3 linked regions of the Homo sapiens genome follow. The protein of the gene in region 3 purifies or fractionates together with the protein of the main gene of each other region. This does not show direct contact. Each region holds a gene or a part of one and is shown on either strand. Other genes may lie near its edges.

Evidence for each region.
Region 1: the proteins of MGARP (region 3) and ZYG11B purify together in Homo sapiens (co-immunoprecipitation; 2 studies listed by BioGRID and IntAct, with this or other methods). This does not show direct contact.
Region 2: the proteins of MGARP (region 3) and SLC25A25 purify together in Homo sapiens (co-immunoprecipitation; 2 studies listed by BioGRID and IntAct, with this or other methods). This does not show direct contact.

The regions. Positions count from the first base shown.
Region 1 is NC_000001.11:52,732,745-52,736,471, forward strand, and holds part of ZYG11B (protein zyg-11 homolog B), read left to right. Parts: intron 1-3,727. UniProt on the Homo sapiens protein: Serves as substrate adapter subunit in the E3 ubiquitin ligase complex ZYG11B-CUL2-Elongin BC. Acts to target substrates bearing N-terminal degrons for proteasomal degradation with the first four residues of substrates being the key recognition elements.
Region 2 is NC_000009.12:128,071,232-128,074,731, forward strand, and holds part of SLC25A25 (mitochondrial adenyl nucleotide antiporter SLC25A25), read left to right. Parts: intron 1-3,500. UniProt on the Homo sapiens protein: Electroneutral antiporter that most probably mediates the transport of adenyl nucleotides through the inner mitochondrial membrane.
Region 3 is NC_000004.12:139,277,948-139,281,774, reverse strand, and holds the start of MGARP (protein MGARP), read left to right. Parts: upstream 1-1,549; 5' UTR 1,550-1,616; coding exon 1,617-1,698; intron 1,699-3,827. UniProt on the Homo sapiens protein: Plays a role in the trafficking of mitochondria along microtubules. Regulates the kinesin-mediated axonal transport of mitochondria to nerve terminals along microtubules during hypoxia.

The sequences.
Region 1 (3,727 bases), on a different chromosome or scaffold from region 3:
CAGAGCAAGACTCTGTCTCAAAAAAAAAAGGCCACCCTGGCCAATGTGGTGAAACCCTGTCTCTACTAAAAATACAAAAATTAGCCGAGCGTGGTGGCGGGTGCCTGTAATCCCAGCTACTCCGGAGGCTGAGGCAGGAGAATCACTTGAACCCGGGGGGCGCGGAGGTTGCAGTAAGCTGAGATCGAGCCATTGCACTCCAGCCTGGGCAAAAAGAGTGAAACTCCATCTCAAAAAAAAAAAATTATTAACCCAACATAGGAGGTTATTTTCCTTAGATAAAGCTCATGCGTGGAAGCAATTGTATACAAAGACAGAATTATTTCCTATTTCAGTAAAATTTACAAACAAGCCTCAGCTAGTTCTCTGTAGGATCATCATTCTAGTCATTTTCAGAGTATCTTGCATTGAATTTCTGTACGTAAAATTATCTTAAGTTACTGAGAAAGTTTTATCAGATTTTACTCTGTGGTAAAATTTGTATATCAAACCTTTTATAGGTTCCCTGATTTCAAAATAATAGTAATATCTCTTAAATAGAATGTTAGTTTTTATTCTTTTTTATTAAATGTGTTTGTTCTAGAGGTCATGCTTAATGATTTCCAAGAGTATATTTTTTGTATAGTTTTTGTGAGGCTGGGCATGGTGGCTCACGCCTGTAATCCACATCTATAATCCCAACACTTTGGGAGACAAAGGTGGGTGGATTGCTTGAGCCCAGGAGTTCGAGACCAGCCTGGACAAGATAGTGAGACCCTATCTCTACACAGAATGAAAAAATTAGCGCACATCTGGGGTCTCAGCTACACAGGATGCTGAGGTGGGAGGATTGCTTGAGCCTAGGAGGTTGAAGCTGCAGTGAGCAGGGTTCACACCACTGCACTCCAGGCTGGGCAACAGAGCAAGACACTGTAAGATCAATCAATCAATCAATCAGAGATATCTTGATGTATCATTTAAGAATCATGATCAGATAAATGTACTCATTCTTGTATTTCATCATCAATGTACTTATATTTCTTGTCTTTAACAGTTTGTTATACAAAGAAAAGCTACTGCATTCAGTGTTCAGATTAAGTTATAACAATGCAATGACTTTATCATGAGCCATTCTCCTAATTCCCACTAATTGACACACATTCAGTAGATAAATTGTTGGATACTCTCAAACTATTCTATTTTTATAAAGGAGAAAATTTTAGATAATTATTAAATATTCAAAAATATACAAATTGAAATAGACATAATTTTTTTTTGTTTTGTTTTTTCATAGTGACAGGGTCTTGCTCTGTGGCCCAGGCTGGAGTGCAGGGGCGTAATCATAGCTCACTATAACCATGAACTCCTGGGCTTAGATGATCTCTTGCTTCATCCTCCTGAGTTGCTGGGACCACAGGCATATGCCAGCATGCCCAGCTAATTTTTTTTATTTTTGTAGAGGTAGGGTCTAGATTATGTTGCCAGGCTGGTCTCAAACTCCTGGGCTCAAGTGATCCTACTGCCTCAGCCCATCAAAGTGCTGGGATGTCAAGCCATGAGCCCGGCAGACATCAATATTGAATGTAATGATGTGAGCCTGTAGATGAATTGGGAAATGCTGGCTAAAACACTGCTTTTTTCATAGGTCCTAAAACTAGCTCTTAAAGTATATTTAATAAGCGGTAGAAATAGTCATTATTAACAATGGAATAAAAGGTTTTTTTTTTTAAAGAGTCTCAATCTGTTGCCATCTCAAAAAAAAATAAAAAATAAAAAATTAGCTGGGTGTGGTAGCGCATGCCTGTGATACCAGCTACTCAGAAGGCTGAGGCAGGAGAACCACTTGAACCTGGGAGGCGGAGGTTGCAGTGAGCCGAGATCGCGCCATTGCACTCCAGCCTGGGCAACAAGAGTGAAACTCTGGCTCCAAAAAAAAAAAAAGTGATTTGGCAGTATGAGTTCAAGAACCACAAAATTGTACACACTCTCTGACCAATTTTCTTTTTCTTTTTCTTTTATTTTGAGATGGAGTTTCGCTCTTGTTGCCCAGGTTGGAGTGCAATGGTGCAATCTGGGCTCAACACAACGTCCACCTCCCGGGTTCAAACGATTTTCCTGCCTCAGCCCCCCGAGTAGCTGGGATTACAGGCATGTGCCACCGTGCTCAGCTAATTTTTGTATTTTTGGTAGAGACAGGGTTTCTCCATGTTGGTCAGGCTTGTCTTGAACTCCTGACCTCAGGTGATCCGCCCGCCTTGGCTTCCCAAAGTTTTGGGATTACAGGTATGAGCCACTGCGCCCGGTCCAAATCACTTTTTTTTTTTTTGAGACGGAGTTTCTCTCGTTGCCCAGGCTGGAGTGCAATGGCGCGATCTCGGCTCACCGCAGCCTCCGCCTCCCAGGTTCAAGCGGTTCTCCTGCCTTAGCCTCCCTAGTAGCTGGGATTACAGGCATGTGCCACCATGCCTGGCTAATTTTGTATTTTTAGTAGAGAGGGGTTTCTCCATGTTGGTCAGGCTGGTATCGAACTCCCAACCTCTGGTGATCCGCCTGCCTCGGCCTCCCAGAGTGCTGGGATTACAGGCATGAGCCACCGTGCCCGGCCCAAATCACTTTTCTAAAGCACTTTGAAGAACAATATGTCTTCAGCACTTAAGTATTTCTTTGACAAACTTAATGCTACAAGTATTATTCTCACACTAAGTAATTGTGATTAAGATTTTTCAGGCTCATAAATGAAAGAAAAAGAAATTGTATAGTAACTAGGCAAGGGTGGAATGAGAAAAGACTGGAGGCGTGCCACTCTTCCTACTCAGAATTTTTTTTATTTTGAGACAGAGTCTCTCTCTGCCACCCAGACTGGAGTGCAGTGGCGCGATCTCGGCTCACTGCAGCCTCCGCCTCCCGAGTTCAAGTGATTCTCCTGCCTCAGCCTTCTGAATAGCTGGAACTACAGGCGCCCACTGCCATGCCCGGCTAATTTTTGTATTTTTTAGAAGAGATGGGGTTTCACTATGTTGGCTAGGCTGGTCTCGAACTCCTGACCTCAAGTGATCTGCCTGCCTTGGTCTTCCTACTCAGAAGTTTTAAATTCCTCCCTATTGTCTGAGACAATAGACCCTGTGAAGATACCTTTTTAACACTGAAAACCTTGAGAGACAGGACAGTAACATACTTTCAGAACATATTAATTGTGGGGGAGAAAAAGCAAAAAGCAGGTCCAGTAGGAATTCAGTAATATTTTAAAATGATACTCTGTTAAGTCTAACATCTATTATGCATTAAAAATATCAAGATATTATTGTGTACAGAGTGTACTTGATATGCATGGGAATTTGTGAACTCCTTAAGATCCTTGTGGAGCCTGCAGTTTCGGCCCTGCTAGTTTACAGTGGTCTTACAGGGCTGCTGTGCTATACAGATTGTACTGCACAATTCAGCTAACAGCCATTCATATAGACAGCAGTGAATCTACAGAGATCTGTATCCTGTGTACTTGGTGATGTCTAGCACATAGTAGGGACTCAGCAAATAGTTGTTGAATGAAAGTGTTTTATTTATTTATTTATTTATTGAGACAGAGTTTCTCTCTGTCACCCAAGCTGAAGTGCAGTGGCGTGATCTCAGCTCACTAGAACCTCTGCCTCCCGGGATCAAGTGATTCTCCCACCTCAGCCTCCTGAGTATCACAGGCATGCACTACCATGCCCAGCTAATTTTTTTCTTTTTCTTTTTTTTCTTTTTTTTG
Region 2 (3,500 bases), on a different chromosome or scaffold from region 3:
TCTTTCTGGTTTTGAAAGAAAACTTTTATTAACCAAAGAGAGCCTAGCCCCTTGGGGTCACTTTGACTCTAAAATCTTTGACTCCATGACAGATCTAAGTTCTATGATAGGAAGCATTTCTTTATTCTTTTGGTGTGTGGGTTTAGTATAGAGTGTATTTCATTTATTTATCTATTATTATTATTACTTTTCTGAGATGGAGTTGCACTTTTGTTGCCCAAGCAGGAGTGCAATGGAATGATCTCAGCTCACTGCAACCTTTGCCTCCTGGGTTCAAGTGATTCTCCTGGCTCAGCCTCCCTGGGACTACAGGCACGCACCACCACGCCCTGCTAATTTTTTTTTTTTTTTTGTATTTTTAGTAGAAATGGGGTTTCACCATGTTGGCCAGGCTGGTCTCAAACTCCTGACCTCAGATGATCTGCCCGCCTTGGCCCCCCAAAGCACTGGGATTACAGGCGTGAGCTACCGCGCCTGGCCTATTTATCTATTTTATTTTTTTTTGAGAAGCAGTCCGCTCTGTCGCCCAGGCTGGAGTGCGATGGTGTGATTTCACTGAAACCTCTGCCTCCTGGGTTCAAGCAGTTCTCCTGCCTCAGCTTCCTGAGTAGCTGGGATTACAGGCGCCCGCCACCATGGCCCGGCTAATTTTTGTACTATTAGGAGACAAGGGATTTCACCATGTTGGCCAGGCTGGTCTCGAACTCTTGACCTCAAGTGATCTACCCACCTCGGCCTCCCAAAGTTCAGGGATTACAGGCGCGAGCAACTGCACCAGGCAGTATAGACTGTATTTCTACTACTTTTTTGGCTTTTGAACAAATTCAGTTGTTATACAGCTTTGAGATCAGAAATAATTTATTAGCTCATTACCTGTAAAGGAGCACAAGTTAGTCCTGTGGGGAACGTTTGAAGTCTTGGAGAGAAGATCTGCCTTTTTGTAAATAACTGGGCAACAGGAAGACATCCTGCCTCTTGTACCCCCATACCACTTCCTGTTGAATTAGCATTAGTATTAACTGCCTACAGAAAAAGCAGTGCTGAGGCTTTGCAGAACTAGCAGGAGCCGAAAGAGAACTGTGGGGCCCTTTGGGTCAAAATGGGTCATCTGCCATGGGAATAGATGTTGAAGAACACATCAAACTTTGGAAGGTGCTTCCTATGGCCCATATGAAACCAGTGTGAGATGCTGGGGTTTGCACGGGAATCAGCTGTGAGTGCTTATCAGGGGGTGATGGGTAAACCCAGGCCATGTGACTTCACAAAGCCTCTTCTTAGCTTATAACAGTCTGGGTCAAGTTTTCTTTAAAAGTAAACCAGCAAGTTTTGCCATCTGCCTTTGTTTGAGAAGAGATGGGACACTCATAAAAATTGCTTAAAATGGAAGTGGGCAGAGAAACCGTTGGCAGCCAGCCAGGGAAATTTTCTTTGTAAAGGGCATGTAAGCGAGAAGCTTGTTCTGGGACAAAAAAAGGGAAGAGTTCATTAAAGAAGAAAGAAAAAAGATGACGACAACAGTAGTGACTTTGGGAGATGAGACTCAGCCAGAGCTAATTATAGATTGCCTATTTAAGGCATTTTCATGTGACCAAATACAATCTGTGTCTTAAAACAAATTTAAAACATAGGTTAGAACTCAGGCAGCCAATTAGAGGAAGAAAGCAAGCTGTATTCTGTGTAAACAGTTGTCTCTCCAGCTGAGGCTTTGGGGCTCTTGTAAGGGGCTGGTGTTTATTGCAGGTGAGGTTCTAGATGAGCTGCAGTTTGCTCATTTAGAGACTGGCATCCACACCATCTCTTTTGAGCCCCACAAAAATTTGTTAAGTAAGCAAGTCAGTAAAATGATTTTCACTCCATTTTACTAGGGAAGGAACAATGGTTCAAAAAGACAATGGAACAACCTCAAAGATCATTTGATCGCAAGGAAATTGGACCAGAGAAGGAATTGGAACCATCTTCTGATTCCTGCTCCTCTCCTCCTTAACACAGTTTTTTTCAGGAACATGAAGAGAATTCTCAAGTTCTTTTGGGGAAACTTGAGAAAGAGGAGGAGAGATAATTTAGAACCACATATTTTGCTCCCAAAGTATAGGTTTCAAGATTATCCAGTTTACCCTGTCAAAGAACAAGAATCCGCCCTCCCCCATTTCTCTCCCTGACCCGAGCAGTGCACATGAGGCAATCCCTATTGACTTGAAATTATTGAATGGAGATCAGTAATGTCAAGTTGGTATTGCTTAATCAGACAGACTGTTGAACTCTATACTTTTTAAATGTTTGGCCATTTGTGGATGTTTATCAAAAGAGCCAGACTTAGATAAGACAGTCTACAGAAGAAAGCTCCTTTCCAAGAGATAGACATTATTCGCTATAATATAATGGCCCTTTAGGAAAAGAAAAATGCTTTTCACAGATTGGATTAAATTCATATATTAAACTAATTGTGTTATATTGTTGCATAATCGGTCCCTGGCTCAAAGTCATAATTATCAAGTCAACTAGAATACTTTTTTTTTTTTTTGAGACAGAGTCTTCCTCTGTCACCCAGGCTGGAGTGCAGTGGCGTGATCTCAGCTCACTGAAACCTCTACCTCCCCGGTTCAAGCAATTCTTTGCCTCAGCCTCTGGTGTAGCTGGGATTACAGGCCTGCGCCACCATGCCCTGCTAATTTTTATATTTTCAGTAGAGACTGGGTTGCGCCATTTTGGCCAGGCTGGTATCCAACTCCTGGCCTCAAGTGATCCACCTGCCTCAGCCTCCCAAAGTGCTGGGATTACAGGTGTGAGCCACCATGCCTGTCCTTGAGAAGATTTTTTTGTGTGTGTGTGACGGATTCTCACTCTGTCACCCAGGCTGGAGTGCGGTGGTGCAATCTCGGCTCACTGCAACCTCCACCTCCCTGGTTTAAGCAATTCCCCTGCCTTAGCCTCCCAAGTAGCTGAGATTACTGGTGCACACCACCACGTCAGGCTAACTTTTTTGTATTTTTAGTAGAGACAGAGTTTCACCATGTTGGCCAGACTGGTCTCGAACTCCTGACCTCAGGCAGTCCGCCCACCTCAGCCTCCCAAAGTGCTGAAATTACAGGCGTGAGCCACCATGTCCAGCTGAGAAGATTTTTTTTTAATAAGTTGATATTTGGAAAGATGCAGTCCCATACCCTGATCCTAAAACCAAGTAACAAATAAGAATAGGGCTGGGTGTGGTGGCTCATGCCTGTAATCCCAGCACTTTGGGAGGTCGAGGCAGGTGGATTACCTGAGGTCAGGAGTTCAAGACCTGCCTGGCCAACATGGTGAAACCCCATCTGTATTAAAAATACAAAAATTAGCCGGGCGTGGTGGCACACGCCTGTAATCCCAGCTACTCGGAAGGCTGAGGCAGGAGAATTGCTTGATCCCAGGAGACGGAGGTTGCAGTGAGCTGAGATCGTGCCAACACGGGCCTGGCCGACAGAGCCAGACTCTGTCTCAAAAAACAAAACAAAACAAAAAAGAAC
Region 3 (3,827 bases):
GGAGTAGCTGGGACTGCAGGCATGTACCACCACACCCATCTATGTTGTAAACTTTTTTTTTTTTTGAGACTGAGTCTCGCTCTGTCACCCTAGTGATTAAACTAGTTAACTCTCTTTCTGAGTATCAAAAAACCAATCTGATCATTGGCTTGTACTCTTCTTATGAGAATATGTTAAATATAATTATAATTAGGTTCAGGACTATAACTTCTGAGAAACGTCTATTTACATAGCAAATGAACAAATATTGTGCCTGTTACATGCCAATAGAACTTTAAGCTAGAAGTATTATGTTCATGTCCTTTTTGTTTTTTAATTCATGACCACCAGTAAATCCCTGGACATTCCCACCCACCACCTGGTGGTGGCATTTGCTAAAGGGAATAATTGCCACCTCCCTCAGAGGGTTGCAGTGAAAATTAAAAGAGATAATAGATGTGAAAGTGCTTTATAATCTTTCAAGTGCCAAACACACATAAGGGATTATTATAGTAGGAAATGGTGTCTTCCAAAGAGTAATCATTTAGACAATGTTATAAACGTAATAAATTATTGGTTTCCATATTCAAACCATGACAAGTTCTTGTAGCCACGATGAGACGGAAAACTAATAATTTAGTATTTTTAGTTGATGTGTTTTTTTGTTTTGTTTGTTTTGTTTTGTTTTTGGGGTTTTTGTTTTGTTTTGTTTTGCTTTTGAGACAGGGTCTTGCTCTGTCACCCAGGCTTGAATGTAGTGGCATGATCTCGGCTCACTGCGACCTCCGCCTCCCGGGTTCAAGCGATTCTCCTGCCTTAGCGTCCCGAGTAGCTGGGATTACAGGCCCGCGCCACCACTCCCGGCTAATTTTTTGTATTTTTAGTAGAAACGGGGTTTCACCATGTTGCCCAGGCTGCTCTCCAACTCCTGACCTCAAGTGATCCGCCTGCCTCGGCCTCCCAAAGTGCTGGGATTATAAACGTGAGCCACTGTGCCCGGCCGCTGATGTGGAAATATTAATTTCACATCCCATAGAGGAATATACAGTGTTTTTGATATTTTAAAGTCGTTTTAACAGTGAGCTGTCTAGAAATTCAACCATTGTCTGCAGATTTTCTTACGATTCTGAGCATCACCCAGTGCGCTAATGGAAGGCTGAGGCTACCCCTTCGCTCTTCTCATTTTTAAGAAACTTCCAGCTATCCTTCCCTCTCCTAGGAAAGCTAACGGAATGCAGGAGATAAAATGGTTTCAGATTACATCCAGCGTGATAAACTGTGTCCTTGTCTTAATCTCGTCCAATTCCCAAAACATTTCCAGCTTGCTGTGAGGAGTTACATTCAGTGGTACAGAATGAGCCAGGCAGGCGACGGCGACTTGTAGGTTCCCCATCCCTTTTCTGAGATGCCGCGGTCAGCTCTAGAGACCTCAGGGATAGCAACAGAGCTGGAGATGGGTTAGGGGAGGATGGTGAGGACTACAAAGGTCTCCCCACCTCCCGGGGGCCGCGGAGGCGGGGCTGGATGAAGGTCGACGTGCCTCCTCCGGGCGGGGCGCTGCCAGGCTCTCAGCCTCTCTGTGGAAGGGCAGCCTGCGCCTGGGTACCGAGGCTGCTGCGCGGCGGACAGCGGGCGCGATGTATCTCCGCAGGGCGGTCTCCAAGACTCTGGCGCTGCCGCTGAGGGCGCCCCCCAACCCCGCGCCGCTCGGAAAGGACGGTGAGTAAGGAGGTCTAGCCCGGAGAGGAGGACGGGCGCCTCGGGTGCAGATTTCGCCCGCGCCAGGGAACCGGCCGGCACCCAGTTGGCCAAACCCGACCCAGAGCAGCAGAAGCCTGGATTGGAGGTCGAGGAGACTGGGGGAGACTCCCGGGAAGACGTCCCGAAGCTCCTGCAGACTTTGGAAGTAGGGAACTTTTCCAGGGTGCCTCAGAGTCCAGATTATCTGGGTTCGCATCCTGATCTTGGACAAATGGCTTAACCTGTTTCCTCATCTATAAAATGAGGGCGATGATGGTTTTCCTTTTTAATGAGTTAATGTATGGTTAAAAGCACTTAAAAACGTGCCTGGCTGACAAAGTCGCAGCTTACCACTTTTATTGTTAGAGGCACCATTCGCTCTCCAATCTCCTGAGGAAGCAGAGGAACGGTGGGAAGGTGGACGCCGATCAGCGAGCGGGCCCGGCAAGCGCTGGGAGGCAGTGAGGCAGGGCCCGCTCAGTGGACGCTGGGCGAATGTTCGTGGGGTAAATAAACCTAACCCTTGGCAGGGTCTCAGCAGCCTGAACCCCGCGAGCGCCTGGCTCTGAGATCCACAACCCCCAAAAAGGAAGCGGCCTTCGGGACACTTTCCTTTGAGGTTGCACGTCGTCCTGCAACTGCTTGGCTCTGTAGTCCAAATATCGACACCTTTGGTTCTGAGGATACGCGAGAAAAAGCAGAATACTCAGCAATTAACTAAAGGGGGAGTTGCAGTGTGAACTGGAGGCTTATTAAATAAAAACGGACATATAGGAAAGCGCTTCGTATAGTGCTGGGAACATAGTAGGTGCTTAATAGGTGTGAGCAAGGAAGATTGTTTTTCTTCTGGGACCAGGCTTGCGCTCCAGGGCGGTTCTGCCCCAGCCGCTTTTCCCTAGTCCCCATCCGTCACCCCTCTCTCTTCCACTCACGACTGGGGGACGGCTCTTAGACAATATCGTGAAGGGTTCTTAATGCTCTCTTCACTTAGCCTCACTTTCTGAGCCTTCCGAGATAATTTTACCCCAGAGGGTGGATTCCAGCAGGAGAGAAAGATGTGCGCGGAGAATTCCATGGGCCGATTTTTTTTTCACGTTGATTAGGCCTCTGTTGGTGGTGGTGGGAGGGAAGGACGGAGGTCTAACTAACTCGCTTTATTTTTCTTGTAAAATGCTGGTGGAAGGAAGTTATCCCTCAAGTATCAGAAATAAGACATCTTCGTTTTCCTAGATCTTTATTGCCTTTATTTTTCTAGATCTTTATACCAAATGATATAGAGCTTTTAAATATATATATACACTGATGAAGTAGGGAGAAGCCATTTATTTTAAACTTCGGAAGATAACGGGACTGTTCTGTTGAGAACGGGGAGAAAGATTAGTCCTCTGACCGTGGCCTTTCGTTTTATCTGTCTGCGTTCCCCACCGACATCATGCGCGCGTGCACGCACACACAAACACACACACACACACGCGCACCTTTTTTTTGTAGCTGCAGAAATTCCAAATAATTTTCTTCCCAATTTGCGGCAAAATAGAAGTAGTTTAAAAATTTTAAATACGTATCTAGCAATGCTGCTTGTAAAGGTACTGGTCTTTCTCTGATTTTCATCTAACTATTTTTGCAGCACTTAAAATGTATTTAAGAACTATTATTGATTGGAAACAAATTTGTCTTCAGTCGTGGACATTACTTAACCTTTTGTTCATACTTTCTACTTTGATGAAAAATAATTTTTTTCAGTTTTATTGAAGGAAAAATTTTTAACTGTGTCTCATCACATTTTGTTCTCTCCTTTTTGCTTTTAAAAGGGTAATTTTATTTTTTTGAGACAGAGTTTCACTCTTGTTGCTCAGGCTGGAGTGCAATGGCGTGATCTCGGCTCACCACAACCTCCGCCTCCCGGATCCAAGTGATTCTCCTGCCTCAGCCTCCGGAGTAGCTGGGATTACAGGCACGGGCCACCACACCCAGCTAATTTTGCATTTTTAGTAGAGATGGGGTTTCTCCATGTTGGTCAGGCTGGTCTTGAACTCCCAACCTAAGGTGATCCACCTACCTCGGCCTCCCAAAGTGCTGGGATTACAGGTGTGAGCCACCGAGCCCAG